2 separate regions of the Homo sapiens genome follow, and region 2 is linked to region 1. Evidence: fine-mapped expression QTL. Tissue or cell type: whole blood. Region 1 holds a variant in brackets; the other region holds the start of a gene. All regions are shown on one strand. Distances are between the middles of the regions.

What was found. PIP is the estimated chance that this variant, and not a neighbour inherited with it, causes the effect.
Region 2: ANKRD6 starts here. The variant in region 1 is fine-mapped to the expression of ANKRD6 in whole blood (TOPMed, PIP 0.97).

Annotation. Positions count from the first base shown.
Region 1 is chr6:89,364,896-89,372,986 of GRCh38, reverse strand. It overlaps RRAGD (Ras related GTP binding D), which reads left to right. Exons shown (of 7, transcript NM_021244.5): 6 at 402-550; 7 at 4,780-8,091. The coding sequence ends at 4,931. Among named protein-coding and RNA genes, the nearest start is that of UBE2J1, 16 kb to the right of the region's middle. RefSeq lists enhancers at 1-103, 474-693, 603-897, 4,721-4,950. The variant C/T (reference allele first, on the strand shown) is at 4,172.
Region 2 is chr6:89,429,831-89,437,932 of GRCh38, reverse strand. ANKRD6 (ankyrin repeat domain 6) reads right to left here and starts at 4,781. Exons shown (of 16, transcript NM_001242809.2): 1 at 4,558-4,781. It overlaps LOC124901360 (a long non-coding RNA gene), which reads left to right. Exons shown (of 2, transcript XR_007059675.1): 1 at 1-4,516; 2 at 5,346-7,725. RefSeq lists a silencer at 4,510-4,989.

The sequences.
Region 1 (8,091 bases):
GGTCTCTTTAGACTCCTTGAATTTGGAACATATCTTCAGCCTTTCTTAGTCTTTCATCAGACCACGCTTTTGACAGCCTGGCTATTCTAGGTGAGAAAACAAGAAGCCCTTGGCCACGGAGGTGGGGAGAGCTAACCTCATCCTTCAACTGGCTTCTTCAGGTGCCTGGAGAGTGTCCCAGCTGCTGCAGACAGCCACTCATTGTCAGTAGGAAATGACTGTTGAGGACTGTGTATGTTTTTGTGCCTGTGTGTTTCTGAGCTCTTTTGCTGAAAGGCACTGCAAGTGTAAACAACTTATGATTATCACTTTTTGTGGCTTAAAGCCGGTCTCTTGTCACTGGCTTACAGTTTCTAGTTCTTTCTCAATGGTCACATGTTTTGGTTTCTGTCCCCATTTAGTCTCAAAGAAGATGGAGCAGGAACCCCCTATGACAAGGAATCCACAGCCATCATAAAGCTTAATAATACAACCGTGCTTTATTTAAAAGAGGTGACAAAGTTCCTGGCTCTCGTTTGCTTTGTCAGAGAGGAAAGCTTTGAAAGAAAAGGTAACTTTTTGGTGTGATTTAAAAGAAGCATTAAAAGAAGCATCAGACTGCTACTGCATGTATTGTTTGTTGAATGTGGGTGGACAACAGCATAGCCCTCGAAACTTCCAGATGCCAGTCACAGGCCCTCTTGGCTTGGAGTTCAGAGCGGGGCGGGCTCCTGCCCCCAGTGTCAGCTTCTGGGCCAGTGAACTGGCCTGCCCTCTAGTGGTGCATCTGCGATTGCAGCGAGGTGGAAGTGGAACCCCATGATCCTCCCAGGGGCCTTGGCATCTCTGCTAGGGGGAAGCTAGTTGGGGCACTGTTGCCAGGCTGTGAATGAAGTCTCTTACCAGGGAGCAGACTCCCAGCCTATACTGAGGGTGGAGGTCTCCACTTTGCTCCACACCTCTAGAAGGTCTTAGGTAACCGTGTGATCTTTTGTTCTTCCCATGTAAAGGAGGGGACAACAGGTGGTTTGACTTCTGTTCAGCCTCAAAATACTTCTTAAATCTTCAGAACACAGGGATGGCATCATGATTCCGGAAAGGGAAGACCATGAATATATTTAACTCCACCAAATTTTTTTTAGGATCAAATTCAGTTTTATTTTGAAACAAAAGCAATTAAACTAATTTCCCCCTTCTATAATATCTAAACAAAAGTTACTAACAGAAGTCCCTAGCTTACTGATATGGCTAGGGACTTTTGTTAGTAATAGGGTATGGTTTACTAATTTGTTGGGTAAAAGAAAATCTCCAACAAATAGTTACATATCCTGAATATGTTATAGTAACATATCCTGAAATAGCCTTTTTCTTCTATATTATAAGCAATATAAGCCCATTAAATTAAAAATGCTTTGAAAATTTAGGAAAGTATGTAGAATAAAACCAGGTATTTCACCATCTAGAGCTAAACCCATGTTAAATTTCTGGGATTTTCTTTCTCCCTTTCTCTCTCTTTTTTGAGACAGGATCTCGCTCTGTTACTTAGGCTGGAGTGCAGTGGCACAGTCATGGCTTTCTGCAGCTTTGACCACCCGGGCCCAAGTGATCCTCCCACCTCATCCTCCCATGTAGCTAGGACCACAGACACATGTCAACAACCTGGAATTTTTTTTTGTTTTTGGTAGAGATTGGGGTCTCACCATGTTTCCTAGGCTGGTCTCAAACTCCTCGGCTCAAGTGATCCTCCCACCTCGACATCCCAAAGTGCTGGGATTAAAGGAGTGAGCCACCACGTCTGGCCCTTCTCTCTTATTTCCTCTCCCTCCTACCCTCGCTCCTTTTCTCCCTTCCTTCATTCCTTTTTTTCCTTCCTTCCAACAAAACTGGGGCCATATTGTCTAATATAGTTTTATATTCTAATATAGTTTTATATTTAATACAAATATGAAAATATTTATATTTTATATTACATATATTTCACTTACGTATATCATGAAATTTTCCTAATTCATTGGCCATGAAAACTTAATTTACATTGTTTATTTTTATCAGAAAAGTAATAGATTCTTTTAGAAAATTTAGAAATAATATTTAGCAAAAAAACAATAATTATCGATGTTTCTCATTCAGATAACTACTCTTAACATTTCCTGTATACTTTTCCAGTCCTTTCTTGCATATGCATTTTCTAAAAGGACTATGATAGATTGTATGATGAATTCTACTTTATAACCTTCACTTAAATTATTACAGACATGTTTCCAATTCACCGTCTTTTTTTAACCACATCATTTTAATGATTGTATTAGATTCTTCTATTTTCAGACATCTATGTTGTTTCTAGATTTTAATGTTATAAATAATATCATTATGACCTCTTTTGCACTAAATATTTATGTGCATCTTTGGTTGTTTCCTAAGGAAAAATTTAAAGTGGAATTACTTAGATCAAAAGGGTAGGCCCATTTTGGGGGCTTCTAATGCATATTACCAAAATGTTCTTCAGAAAGATTTTCTGGTTTTATGCTGCGAAGAGAATATGAATACTTATTTTGCTGTGTTCTTATCAATATTGGGTATTAGTATTTTTAAAAGTTGTTAACTGAAAACTGGTATATTATGTGAATTTACATTTTCTTGCTGCTTAGTGATGTCCTGTATTTTTCCTGTGTGTACCATGACTGACCAAATTGCCTTTTGTGTCCTTTGGCCTCAGAACTGTAAATTAAATGGTGTTCATCTTTTACTCCTTATTTTCATCTTGCTAGAAACAAGAACAGATTATATAATAGATCACGGAATTTTAAAGATAGACAGGAATACACCTTGTTTCACCCTCTCATGTCACAGATGATTTTACTCAGGCCTAGAAAATATAAATGACTTTCTCTCAACATCACACCACCACTTTATGGCAGTCAGGGCTAAAGGTTGCTGGCCTCAAGTGATCCTCCCTGCTCAGCCTCCCGAAGTGCTGTGCTGTGCCTGGCCTCCTGGTGTGCCTGGTGCCTGGGTGTTTTTATTGTGCAGCTAGGGTTGAGAACTCCTGAACCAGAGAAGGATGTGGGGCCTTATGAACTGTAGGTGGGGTGAAGAGAGTGTTTATTTTGTTTATGTCTCTGTTCATGTATTTTCAAAAACTTTTCATGAGGGTTGAAATAGCAAACACTGTTTATGGATATTTACTGTCTTTAAAAAGCCTCAGTTGTGAACTTTTACTTAAAATTCCAAACACAGCAAGATTACTGTTACATTTTGAAATGTGCAAAGATATGTAAGTTAAGGTTTGTCAAGAACAATAGGGGCGGGTGCCAGTGGTTCATGCCTATGATCCCAGCACTTTGGGAGGCCAAAGTGGAAGGATTGCTTGAGCCTAGAGGTTCAAGACCATCCTGGGCAACATAGTGAGACCTCATCTCTAGGAAAAATTCAAAAATGAGGTGGGAGGATTGCTTGAGCCCAGGAGGTTGAGACTGCAATGAGCTGTGATTGAGCCTTGCACTCCCACCTGGGTGACAGAGTGAGACCCTGCCTCAGAAATAAGAACAGGATATGTCTGAAATTTCCCAAGTTGAGTATTTCATTGTACCCTTCTCATTGAGCCAAGTTCTTTTAGCTAAGCTTTTTAAGACAGTTTGTTGCACATAAAAGCAGAGAATCTTGAGGCTCTCACATCTCATATTCAAATTGCCATTTAAAAATCGTTCCTTTGCTCCTTTGTTTTTATTACTTTTCCCCTTGCTTGTGACATTGGTCTTTCCTTGAGGAAATTGACTCCTGGTTTTACTGCACTAGTGGTTCACTCTCTCTGCAGAAGCAGCAGAGGGCACTACTCAGAGGTTTTCCTGCTCCTGGAAACCGAGACGGTGCCCTCCCCGCCCTCCCCTTGCAGTTAGTTGTATAACTAGTTTGAAGAATTTAATCCTTGGCCGGAATCCTAATTCTTCCTTTGGACGCGGCTCTAGAAGCATCCACTGATAGATAGAAATAATTGTTGGGCTAGTTATTTTAATAAATTCAAAGATAGTAAATAGAACTGACCACCTTATCCTAATTGGTGTAAACATAATGTTGCTCTCAGGACTTTTACAAATTACTAGTAATGATGAAAAATGCACTCATCAAGACTTTGGATTATCTTTTATTCTATTTTTTGTGTCACTGATACATTTCTGAAAACACAAGAAGATTC[C/T]CTCCTACTATTTCTCCACTTAAAATACTTAATACTGAAAAGCTGAGTGTCATTGGTTGTTGAATTTCTGCTGGAGTTGGCGAGATGACTGTTAACACTCTAAAATTAGGGGCTTCGCTTTCCCTCGGGCTTATGAGAATGGTTTAAATATAATAGATACTCAGTAAATATTTATTGATTGATACACAGCTTTGGGATCCCAAGTCAGGATCTGCCTCTACTCAGTCTAATAATGCCCTTTGGGGAGAAACATTTTTCATTACAGATTTCTCTTAATTGTAAGAAATCTTTAATTCTGAAAGGTTAAAAAAAAAGTTCAGTTCAGTCGTTCTTTAAATCTTTTGGGTCATAGGAACCTTTGAAAATATGGTCTATGCTCTGCAACCTTGCATCAGGAAAAATCTTCCTTCACAAGACTTTGCCTATAATTCCTAAAGATTTATAGCAATTTCTGAAGGCCAGCTGCAGACATCCCAGGGAAATCTCTGGTCCTTACGCTAAGACCATCCTCTACTGCCCCCTACTGGCTTGTCCTGGCCATGGGTCCCATGAAAAGATGGAGATTATTTCTACGTGACATTTATAAATATTTTTGTTCTCTTCTCCAGGGCTAATTGACTATAATTTTCATTGCTTCCGGAAGGCCATTCATGAAGTTTTTGAGGTGAGAATGAAAGTAGTAAAATCTCGAAAGGTTCAGAATCGGCTGCAGAAGAAAAAGAGAGCCACCCCTAATGGGACCCCTAGAGTGCTGCTGTAGGTGAGGTTTCAGGAATGTCTTTTGAAATCAGACCTTATCCATGAGGCTGCTGCGCCATGTTGCACTAAAGGAAGAGGAAGAAGGAGATTGGGACACATACCATTGATTTGTTGTTAAAAAAAAAAAATTCCTGCAACCCTCTTGATCTTCTCTTTTATAAATAAAGTAAGCACTTTGAAGCAAAAACTTGTATATTAACAGTGATGTGAAATCCATTGTCATTTCATTACACAAATGTAAACTTTTATGGTCTGTAGTCAAAAAAATCCCGTGTGAGAACTGCCAGGAATTGTACATATTTTGCACTTTTTCATGTTTCTCATTGAACTGAACTTTGATAAAACGACTTTTCTAAGCTTTTTTTCTGTACTTGGTGTCAAGGACATGCATACTGTAGTCCATATCTATATGGCAATCAGAAATTAATCAAAAAGTGATGCATTGGTAATGACTTTTTGTAAATTTGGAAATCTTTGCTACCAATTGTTGAGAAAAATCATTTTTCAGTGGAGCTGGAACAGATTGGAGCTACAAGCTCCAGGAGCAATAAGAACTGTCCCCTATTTATAATGGGTGTAAACAGTTTTGTAGAATAATGCTAGCACCAGACTTACCTAAAAATTTCTATAGCAGTGGCTGTGCTTCCCTGCTCAACGGTTTTTATGAAGCTGTTTACCTCAACACACATCTCTATAATCACTTTATACAGAGAGGTTATTTCTTTTTGTTGCATTAGTATTCTTTTGAAACTTTGGGACCAGATTTCCAAAATGGTGCCGAACACTGGAGAGAAGTAAGAATGTCACTGAATTGTAGGGTTTCTGGAGGCTTTTCTGTACCTACCACCCAGGGCTAAAGTAACATCAGAGGCCTAAAGTTGTTCCAAAAGTATGTGATTGGCAACTGCAGACTAAAAAACATAGATACAATTCTGGACTTTTGGCCCTGTGCGATGGTCTGGTGTGCTGCATTTAAAATGCTTATTCAGGACCAGTTCTTTATTGCTCCATGACCATAGTGAATAGAACAAATCGCAGAACCCCACCATGGAGCTCAATCCTGTTAGTCACTTTTGTCACCTCCACATCTCCTTCTCACTGGTGATAACATGCCTCATGTACTCCACTTGTTCCCACCTTATGATTAAGCCAAGCTCAGCCTGCCACCAGCATGCTCTGCAAGGCTGAAGAGTCATCCTGAAGACCCCTAAAGGTCAGTGGGAAAAGGATGGCTGGAGAGACATTACAATTAGCTGTGTAATTGTTTCTGTGAAATTATTTCACTTATGTTTACTTTAGACTAACAGGAAATTAAGAGTCCTAAATCTACCCCTATGCCAAATCATTCCAAGTAGATAATTTTACGTGCATCTCAAGGGTTAGCACCCTAAGGCATGCTTGTGGGGCATTAGAAAATGAGATTTTTTTTTTTTTAAAGCAGAGCCTCCTAAGAACATCAAAGTTGGTCCTAGCAAAATATATAAAGTCCCTAAAGCAACTTATACTTGAAACTTTTTTTTTTTTTTTTTTTAGAGGGGGGCCTCATTCTGTTGCTTGTGCTGGAATACATTGGTACAATCATAGCTCACTGTTACCTCTTGGGCTCAAGGGATCCTTCCACCTCAGCCTCCCTAGTAGCTAGAACTACAGGTGTGCACAACCACGCCCGGCTAATTCTTAAATTTTGTTTTTGTAGAGACAGGATCTCACTGTGTTGCCCAAGATGGTCTCAAACTCCTGGCCCCAAGCAATCCTCCTGCCTTGGCCTCCTCAAATGCTGAGATTACAGGCCTGAGCTACTGTGCCCAGCCTAAACTTTCCCACTTCTCTCTGTGGCTTCTTTCCAACCTCTCTCCTTCCTCTCCCCAAGTCCTGTTTCTTTGAAGCTGGTAACTGAATTTAAGATGATATCTGGTTGGTGTTTAAGGTTTGAGCCTCCCAAGGTTCTGTGCATTTTGAAAGGAGATTTCTAAAAATAATTAAGGTGCCCTAACTCCTTTCCTCATGATTCCTACTCCGAAACCTGGATGGTTAGGAGCCCAGGGCTCCCTGATTTCCAGAGCTATATCCTGTTGGACCTTTGCCAACAGACCTGACACTTAGGGGTTATTGTTATAAATCTAATTCTCTAATATTTTTTACATGTTGTTTCACTTTGAATAAGCAAATGAAGAATCAGTTTTCTAATATGACTTTATCCTCAAGCTAGAGACACTAGCCTATTTGGTAAATCACACATTACTTAGGTATATTTATTACTATAACCAGGTTGGAGCTTCCATGTTTAAGCTGGGTATATGATGGGTTTTTGTTAAAATGTGCCTTAAAAAGCCTATTACTTCAAGAGCAAATGATTCTTTGGGGGAAAGGCAAAAATAATTCTATGACATAGGGCCCAAGTTCATGGTAGTAAGTGTACTCTTTGATTAATCACACGCTAATATAGATTACTGCCTCTAACTTTGTAAGTGTGGCAATGACTTCTTAATTAAAGAAAGATGCAGGAGTTATGTCTAAGCGTTCAGTTTTTCAAATCTGTGTTATTGGAAATGTCTTCAAGTCATTTTGCATTGTATTTTTGATATGAGAGGCAGCTTATTGCGATGTGTATGGCCATGTTTCATTCTCAAATTTAATTCTATAAATACAAATCCTAAATACATGGCTACAGCAACTGCACTGGAACATTTTTGCTTGGTTTTAGGGATTGAGAACTTGCCTTGCAGGTTTCCTTCCTCAAAAGGAGCAGGGCAGTCCTTTCCCTGTTGAGTCAATTAGAATTTTTACATAGAGGTGAGACTGTGAATTATTTTGGTTATTTTCAGTGATGTAGATTAGTGTGAATGACCAGGGTGGAATGTTTTTGAAGGAATATAAAGCAAAAACTGGTTGACATTCACAAACTGTTCTTTTGTGAACATATTTTGGACCCTTAAATATGACTAAAATCACAGCAATATTGTTACATACGGGTTATATGCCAACTCTGTTTGAAATATACTCTGGAAAAACAGCTGAATTGTCTTGGTTATTAAAGTATGGTATGTATTCAACTTGTACAGACTGGATGTAATTTGTAATCAGGTATAGTCCATGTTTTACTTTAAGCAGTACATCACTTAATAACCATTGTTAAGCCATTGCTTTCAAGAATGTTAACT
Region 2 (8,102 bases), 65 kb before region 1:
GTCCCAGCTACTTAGGAGGCTGAGGTGAGAGGATGGCTTTGAGCCCAGGAGGCAGAGGTTGCAGTGAGTTGAAATTGCACCACTGCACTCTAGCCTGGGTGACAGCGAGACCTTGCCTCAAAAATAAAATAAAATAAAATGAAACCAGTCTGAATGAGTAGAGACCTACTTATTAAGTAAATTCTGATATTTAACATCTTTTCTAACACTGTGTAAATTCTATAGCTCATCTGTATCACTGGATATGAAACAAGGTAGGACGTATTGTATGCTATATTTAGAATACATTTGGAACATAAAGTGTAAACCAGAAGACACTCTTAAAATTAAATTTGCCTCCCCCAAAGCAGAATGTACTGGACTTCAGTCATTCAGTACCATCTTCATGAGTTTTTCCATAGCTGTGTACCTAATATATTATTATTTACTTCATATTTTTCTAGACCTAAGGAGGGCACAGAGAGATGTGGCAGTTGTGAGACTTCAGTTCCACATCTGCCCTATTCAGAAGTCCAAGATGTTCATTCTGGGACTTCCTTTGGCTCTTGAGGAATTGGTCCTGGAGTTTTCAGGATCCAGATGAATAGCTGGGGGCTCTGAGGAAAAAGAACTGGTCGGGCTTATCTGGGGTCTGAGCAGAAAGAAAGCCTCTTGTAACTGGTGGGGGAAAGATATGTCAGAGAACTGAAATGGGATAAGACATCCAAATAAAGGGGCCTTTTATGGGGTGGGGGTAGGTAGGAATCTGTAAATATTTCCTTATAGCGCTTACTAACCTTTTTTGACTTAGGAAACCATTTGAGAATCTGATGAAAGCTATGGAACTTCTTCCCCCTCAAACATACATAAGAGCATTCACTTAAATACTTATACATAATTTTGGGAGATCTTAGAGTATTTGTAGCCCACCACTGAACCCCAGGTTAAAAATTCTTATTTTAGTGACAAATTTAATAGCTGATCCTCAGGTTTATAAAGGAACCCACCAGTAAATAATGCAGACACTTCCCTATAAAAGAGAGAGAACATAGCTATTTCTTCCATCTCTTCCCCCTTGACGGGATGAGGAAGAGCTGGGAAATAGAGATAATGTCACCCCTAAGCTTTTCTCTGCTGCTGTCCCTAACCTCAGTGCCTTGGTACAGTCCAGCAGTGGGGCACCATCAACAGAATTTGTTTTTAAAAAACGTTTAAAAACTTTATTTTGAAATAATATTAGTCTTACATAGAAGTTGCAAAAATAGTACATGAATTCCCTATTCTGTCCTCCCCCTACCCCTGGTAACTACCATTCTACTTTCTGTCTCCATGTGTATGACTACTCTAGGTACCTAATATAAACAGAATCATACAATATTGTCCCTTCTGTGACTAACTTATTTCACCTAGCATAATGTTTTCAAAGTTTACTATTTTGGACCCCCTGACTGGGTGTTTTGCAACTATAGCAAATTAAAATGGGCAATGTAGAAAATCTGAAAATTTCAATGGAAACTAGTATACCAAACATGTCTGGACACTGCTGAACCTATTAACTGGAGGTAGTTTGCAGTTTCAACAGTAGATCATGTTACATTCCTATCCAAGACAATACATCTTTGCAAAGCTGGGTTTTCTGTGGCTGCTGTGATAAAAGCCAAATGCTGCGGAAATATTAATGTGAAACAGGAAATGAGAGTGGCAGTGTCCAACACGATCCCAAGGTTTGAAAAGTAGTATAGGCACACACATACGGTTAGTAATTATGACTTTAAAGGATGTAAAATATTTTTTCTCTCAGTTTATGTATATTATTTTTTCAAACAACTTCTAAGTAAATACTCAGTTGTTTGAACCTAACTACTAACTACTGAAACCTAAGGGAATTGTGAAAAAATTACTAACTACTGAAGCCTAAGGGAATTGTGAAAAAATTAACTCAGACACTAAGGGCTCCATGAAACCAAGTTTCAGAATCTTTGCCTTAACCAAGAAGTAACAAAACAGTGTAAGATTCACCAAGGAAAGCCATGTGACCTTGAAGAAATAAAACAAAGACAATAACACAAACATATCAACCAGGAAGAGGAATTTGGGTTGTTAAAACCATTTTTAAAGGTCACTCTTAGCTTAATCCTTCAAATCCCACACAATGCCTTCTGGATAATTTGCATTTTTAAAAAAACTTCTAAAACGCACGCACCCAAATTACTGTTTTCCCACTTCTTAGGGACTCAAGCAAAGCTTTTAAAATCACAGCCATCAATCTATGTTGGAAGAGACTGGGTCTCCCCTACACAGACAGAACACACCTTCGGGATCCGTGCCAGGGAGACAGGAGAAACTTGGAAGAAGACAGAGACTAAAAGATCCCCCGACTTTGAGACTTTCGGCTTTTTTGTGGTTTGTATCTTACCCTCAATAGCCTGCTTTTAAGTTCAATAACAATGCTCCTTGAGAAAAAAAGAAAAATAAAGAATGCTCCAGGTTATTGTGGAAATGCTTGTTGGGAAACTTCCTTTCCTCAGGGTTTTTCATATAAGCAAGGGAAAAAGTTAACACAACATCCAGAATAGTGGTTCCTTGGGTGGGAGGCGAGAAGTGAGTGGAAGGCAATGGAGAGGGGTACTCAGGGGCTCCAGGGGCCTGGCGATGTTCTAGTTCTTCAGCCGGGTGACTCGTACTTGGGTGTGATCTATTGTTATTCTTTACATTGCACTCTAAGGTTTATACTGTCTGAGTGTATGATGTATTTCACAGTGGCAGCACCAGCATCTCTATACAAGAAGGAGGCCTTGGGAGTTGGAAGTGTGCCTTGTCTCTAAGCTGAGTTGGATCGCAGGCAGTCTGCTTTTACATGGAGCATATGCTTATCTGGAAAGGCTTTGGGGAGGCTGATGAGTTTAAGTGGGAGACTAAGATTAATTTTTGGTGCCACCATGAAAAAACAAGGAGTTAATAAATTCACATTTTTAAAAATTACCATTGGTTTATACCTCCCAACACTGCGACTAGTTGTTTTCTGGTCTCTTTAATTCCTCTTCATCCCTCTTCTACCCTTCCCCCATGTCCAGTATGACCTAGAGGGCAGAAAATACTCCCCAATTTTAATTTGTATCCCTAATTTTTAAAAAATTTTTTGTTACCATATGCTAAACAAATACTAAAGATGACAAAGTGTAACATGTATCGGTATAGACACACCTACTACACTCAAGAACAAGGCTGCAGACCAGTACAGTGGCTCACACCTGTAATCCCAACACTTTGGGAGGCTGAGACAGGAGGAGTTCGAGACCAGCTTAGGCAACACAGTGAGACTCTGTCTCTAGTAAAATAAAAAAATTCAAAATTAGCCAGGTGTGGTGGTCCCAGGCTGAGGTGGGAAGATCGGTTGAGCTAAGGAGGTCAAAGCTTACAGCCTGGGCAACAGAGCGAAACTCTGTCTCAAAACAACAACAACAAAAACCCCGCCAAGGCTGCTATTGGTGTTTTGGGGATGAGAAACCCCCAATCAGTATACCATGGATGGGACCACCTTGGACCCAGGTGTGTTTGTCTTCATTGCCCAAGTTCTTTCCACTTACACTGGCCTAACAGAACCTAAGCATGAATGAATTCAACATCCAACAGGTTCGCAAAAGGTGTCTAACACACAAGAGTACAATGCCAAGCATTTCATTCCCATCACTTCACTGCATGAACACAATACTACGAGGTTATGTACAATACCTGCAGTTTAGAGTTCTAAAAACTAAGGTTTAAAGAAGTGGGTTTTCCAAAGTCACACACCTAACAAGTGGTGGAGTCAGAACTCCATCTCACGGGCCCGAAGTGGCTCTTTACTACCACGTGACCCATCTCATGCTACCTCGCGGGGGAAACATTCTTGACCAGCTTTGAGACATTCAAGTCCCTCTTGGGTCACAAATAATGCTGCACTTCCCCTCCAGTCCCCGAGATCTACCGGAAGCAACACACTTAAAAGCCCAAGATAAGCTTGGGTGAGCTGATGTCTGGACCCAAACCAGACAGCACGCCGACTCTCTGGACCCCGGGAGATGCCACTTGCTGAGGCTTCGCCGATGGGGCTCCTGAGGGGTATCGGCCCCTCTCCTGCGACTGCACCCTAGTGCTGTCGTCCAGGGCGGGGAGGGACGGGGTCATTCGGAGGCGGCCGCAGGCCAGGGACCTACCCTCCTACGCGCCGCAGACCGCGGGGTACTCGGACCCCCGCCCCCACCGCCCTTCCTTCAAACTGCAAGCGAGCAGGAGAACGAGGGACGAGCCCCAGAAGAAAGTTCTCCACCTCCCTCGCCCGAAGTTCCATATTCCAGGGAGGCAACTGATGCCAGGCGAAGAGGGAGGCGCCCCGGGGGGACCCCCTCGCGCCGGGCGTTTTCGGAGGCCGCAGGCCAGGGGGCGAGGCGCGGTGTCCGGGTCTCCTCCGCGGGCAGTCGGCGATCCTGGGGTGCCGAGGGAGCAGCGCCCCCTTCCCCCGACAGCGTCCTCCCCGACCTGAGGCGCCCACCCCGGTGTAAGCGGGGGTCCCAGGGAGCCGGCGAGGTCGCCTGGTACCTTTCTCTCCCGCGCCGGACGTCCGCGCCGCAGGGACCAAGGCCGGCGACACGGTGGGGGGCGAGGGGCGAAGACGGGGACTGGCTCCCGCTGGCTCCGGCGGCCCCAGGGCCTCGGCGCCGCCCAGCGCCGTGCCTCCAGCCGCCCGCGCGCCAGGCAGCGCTCTCGGCTCCTGCGGGTTACCTGTGGCCGAGCCCGCCGCGTCCGCCGCCGCAGGGCCCTCTGCCCCGTCCCGCCGGCCCCGCCCCACCCCTGCCGGCGGCTCCTACGCCGGTGCCGCAGCGCCTCCCAGCGGCGAGCCGGGGCACGGCAGGGACCCTCGCGAGAGAGAGGTGGCACCGCGGAGGCCCTGGGGCTGGCCCCGATCTGCAGCCCTCTCCTGGGTGGGGCCACCGCCTTCTGAAGAGTGGGAGGAAGGGGGCCTATAGTAGGGTGAGGTTTTCCGCGTGGGGGTTGCCAGGAAGTGTATTGGGAGGGGAGGAGAATTAGCAGGAGGAACCTCCCACCTTCACTCAATTCGTGGCCAAGTGGATATTTCAATATAACCATAGCTCACTTAACTGGGGCTGCTCAGTACAAACTGAACAACAATGATGAATGACCCAGATTTATTGGGGTAGCTGGAGAGGGGAAAGGAAGCCTTTATTTCTAACAGCTTGACTATAAGTATCTTGTTGGAATCATCCCATATGGAAATGGCAAAAGCATTGAGCGAGCCTGACCCCCATATTCATATCACACTTTACATACCATTATCTCAGTCTGGTTTTGTCTATTTTCATTCACAGCCACTTCTTCAATACCTAGAAGAGCTCCCTGAACACAGGAAGCATTCAATAAGCTACTGTTGAATACATGTAAGATGGATGGGATCTCATTCCACCCTTTGAAGAAGCATGGACAGGTATCTGCTCTCCAAAGGCGGAGAGATGGAAGAGGAGGCAAGCAGCACCCTAAAATGGACTATCAATCTTACCTGAGGTTTTGGGACAAGCTTATCACGAATCTGATTTTTTTTTCTTTCTTGCTTAAAATTTTTTTTTGAGACGAAGTCTCACTCTGTCACCCAGGCTGGAGTGCAATGGCACCATCTAGGCTCACTGCAACCTCCGCCTCCCAGGTTCAAGTGATTCTCCTGCCTCAGCCTCCTGAGTAGCTGGGATTACAGGTGCCCGCCACCATCCCTGGCTAATTTTTGTATTTTTAGTAGAGATGGGGTTTCACCATATTGGTCAGGCTGGTCTCGAACTCCTGACCTCGTGATCCTCCAGCCTCGGCCTCCCAAAGTGCTGGGATTACAGGCATGAGCCACTGCACCCAGCCGACTTTTCTTATTCCCTCTGAAACAGGCCTGGTTTCCAGGAGAAAAGAAACATGATGATTTCTTCCTTTTCCTTAAGATGTTTGTTTCCCTCTCTCCTTCAGGGATCATTAGGCAGGAGAGATCCCAAGAGCCTGTTTCCACACTAGGAAGGGGAAGTTCTTGATTTTCTCCTACTGCTTCTGAAATTTTCCCAACCCCATAGTCACAGCTGCAGTTTTACCTAACAGGATGTGAAATCTCTCTTCTGAGTATCCTTTGGCCTTTTCCAGACTTTTTTTTCCCCCTTAAGATGGGGCCTTGCTGTGTCACCCAGGCTGAAGTGCAGTAGCCCACTGCAGTCTTGAACTCCTGGGCTCAAGCAATCCTCCTGCCTCTGCCTCCTGAATAGTTGGGATTACAAGTGTGCACCACCATGCCCAGCTAATTTTTTTATGTTTAACACAGAGGAGGTCAAGGCTGGTCTTGAACTCCTGGGCTCAAGTAATCCTCCGGCCTCAGCCTCCCAAAGTGTTGGGATTACAGGTGTGAGCCACCGCGCCCAGCCCTTCTTCAGATTTGTGCCCCATTCCTGTTGCTCTACACCTGGAGCTGATAGAAGAACACATTTCCTTTCTCTGCTGGCTTGTAGCTCCAGGTTTCTCTCCAGGCAGGTTACTAATGAGTTCCTAGATAACCCTCAAAGTCAAAGTTTGTACACATGACCTTTCTTTTTATTTTTTGAGATGGAGTTTTGCTTTTATTGCCCAGGCTAGAGTGCAGTGGTGCAATCTCGGCTCACTGCAACCTCCACCTTCCGGTTTCAAGCAATTCTCCTGCCTCAGCCTCCCAAGTAGCTGGGATTACAGGCGCCTGCCACCACGCCCAGCTAATTTTTTTGTATTTTTAGTAGAGACGGAGTTTCACCATGTTGGTCAGGCTGATCTCGAACTGCTGACCTTGTGATCCACCTGCCTCAGCCTCCCAAAGTGCTGGGATTACAGGTGTGAGCCACCGCGCCCAGCCACATGACCTTTCAATGTGATCATTTCTCTCTTGTACTTTTCCACATTGAGTTTTCCTAGCTAGTCCCTCGAATAAACTTCCAAAGATGCAAATGCTCAGTTTCCCTGATAGGCTTTTAAAACATCACCAGAAAGTCACATTGAGATGAGATTTTAAGTTATATTTGTGGGTAGTCAGAGCAATGACCCCGAAAGAAACAGAAAGCCCAAGCCAGCCTGCAAGACATGTGAGCGCTCCTGGGAACTGACTGGTCTGCTTTTGTTCCCAGACTTTGATTAATGGGGATTCCTGGCAGGAGGTCTCATGAGAGCCAAAGCAGGCAGTGGCTGAGCTGCTTGGAGATCTTGCTTGCTTATCTCCAAGTGGGCAGACAGTCTTTGGGCGACCAACGAAGAAGACTCCTAAATCTCCCTCTTTATGAGAAGGGCTCCCAGGCTGCAGCTCTGTTCTTGCCCCTACGTTCAGCTCAATCACAGCCAGCCTCTTATATTCACCCTAGCTCACCCTCCTTCTGCCTTGTGAGAAAGAAGTTTGCTCTGCAAATGATCATTTTCACTGCTTTGTGATAATATAATCTGCTCCTATTTTCAACAACATGTCTTTAATGAGCTGACTGCATTAGCTGTCTTTCATGTTGTTAGCTTCAACGCAGCCTTCAACACACCATTCTGGCTTCCATCCCTGCCACTCCACTGAAACTGCCTTTGCTAAAGCTTCCACTCAAGGAAGAACCCTTCCATCTGCCGCTCTATAATCATATCCTTCTCTTTCAGAGGAAACCACCATCCTAAGTTTTGTGTTAATAATTATGTTATCACAAATATATGTGTCCCTAAACACTACATGGTTTGTTTTTGCGTGTTTTTGAGCTTTTTTAAAATAGAATCATTCTGCATTATTCCCATGCAACTTGCAGCTTTTGCCCAGCATTATGTTTCTGAGATTCACCTATCTGATTTCTCTGTTATATAGGTATTTTGTTGTAAAAACATAACACAATTTAATTACCCATTCTACTTTTGGATGTTGGATTGGCTCCAGTTTTTGCTATTGCAAACAGTGTTGCTGTGAATATTCTTAAATATTTCTCCGATACATGTGTGTAAGAATGTTTTTTAGGATATATACCTAGAAGTGGAATCATCAGGTCTTAAGGTAAGTGCACGTTCAAATTTACTAGGTAATGTCAAACTGTCTAAACTGGTTGTTTTCTAAAATT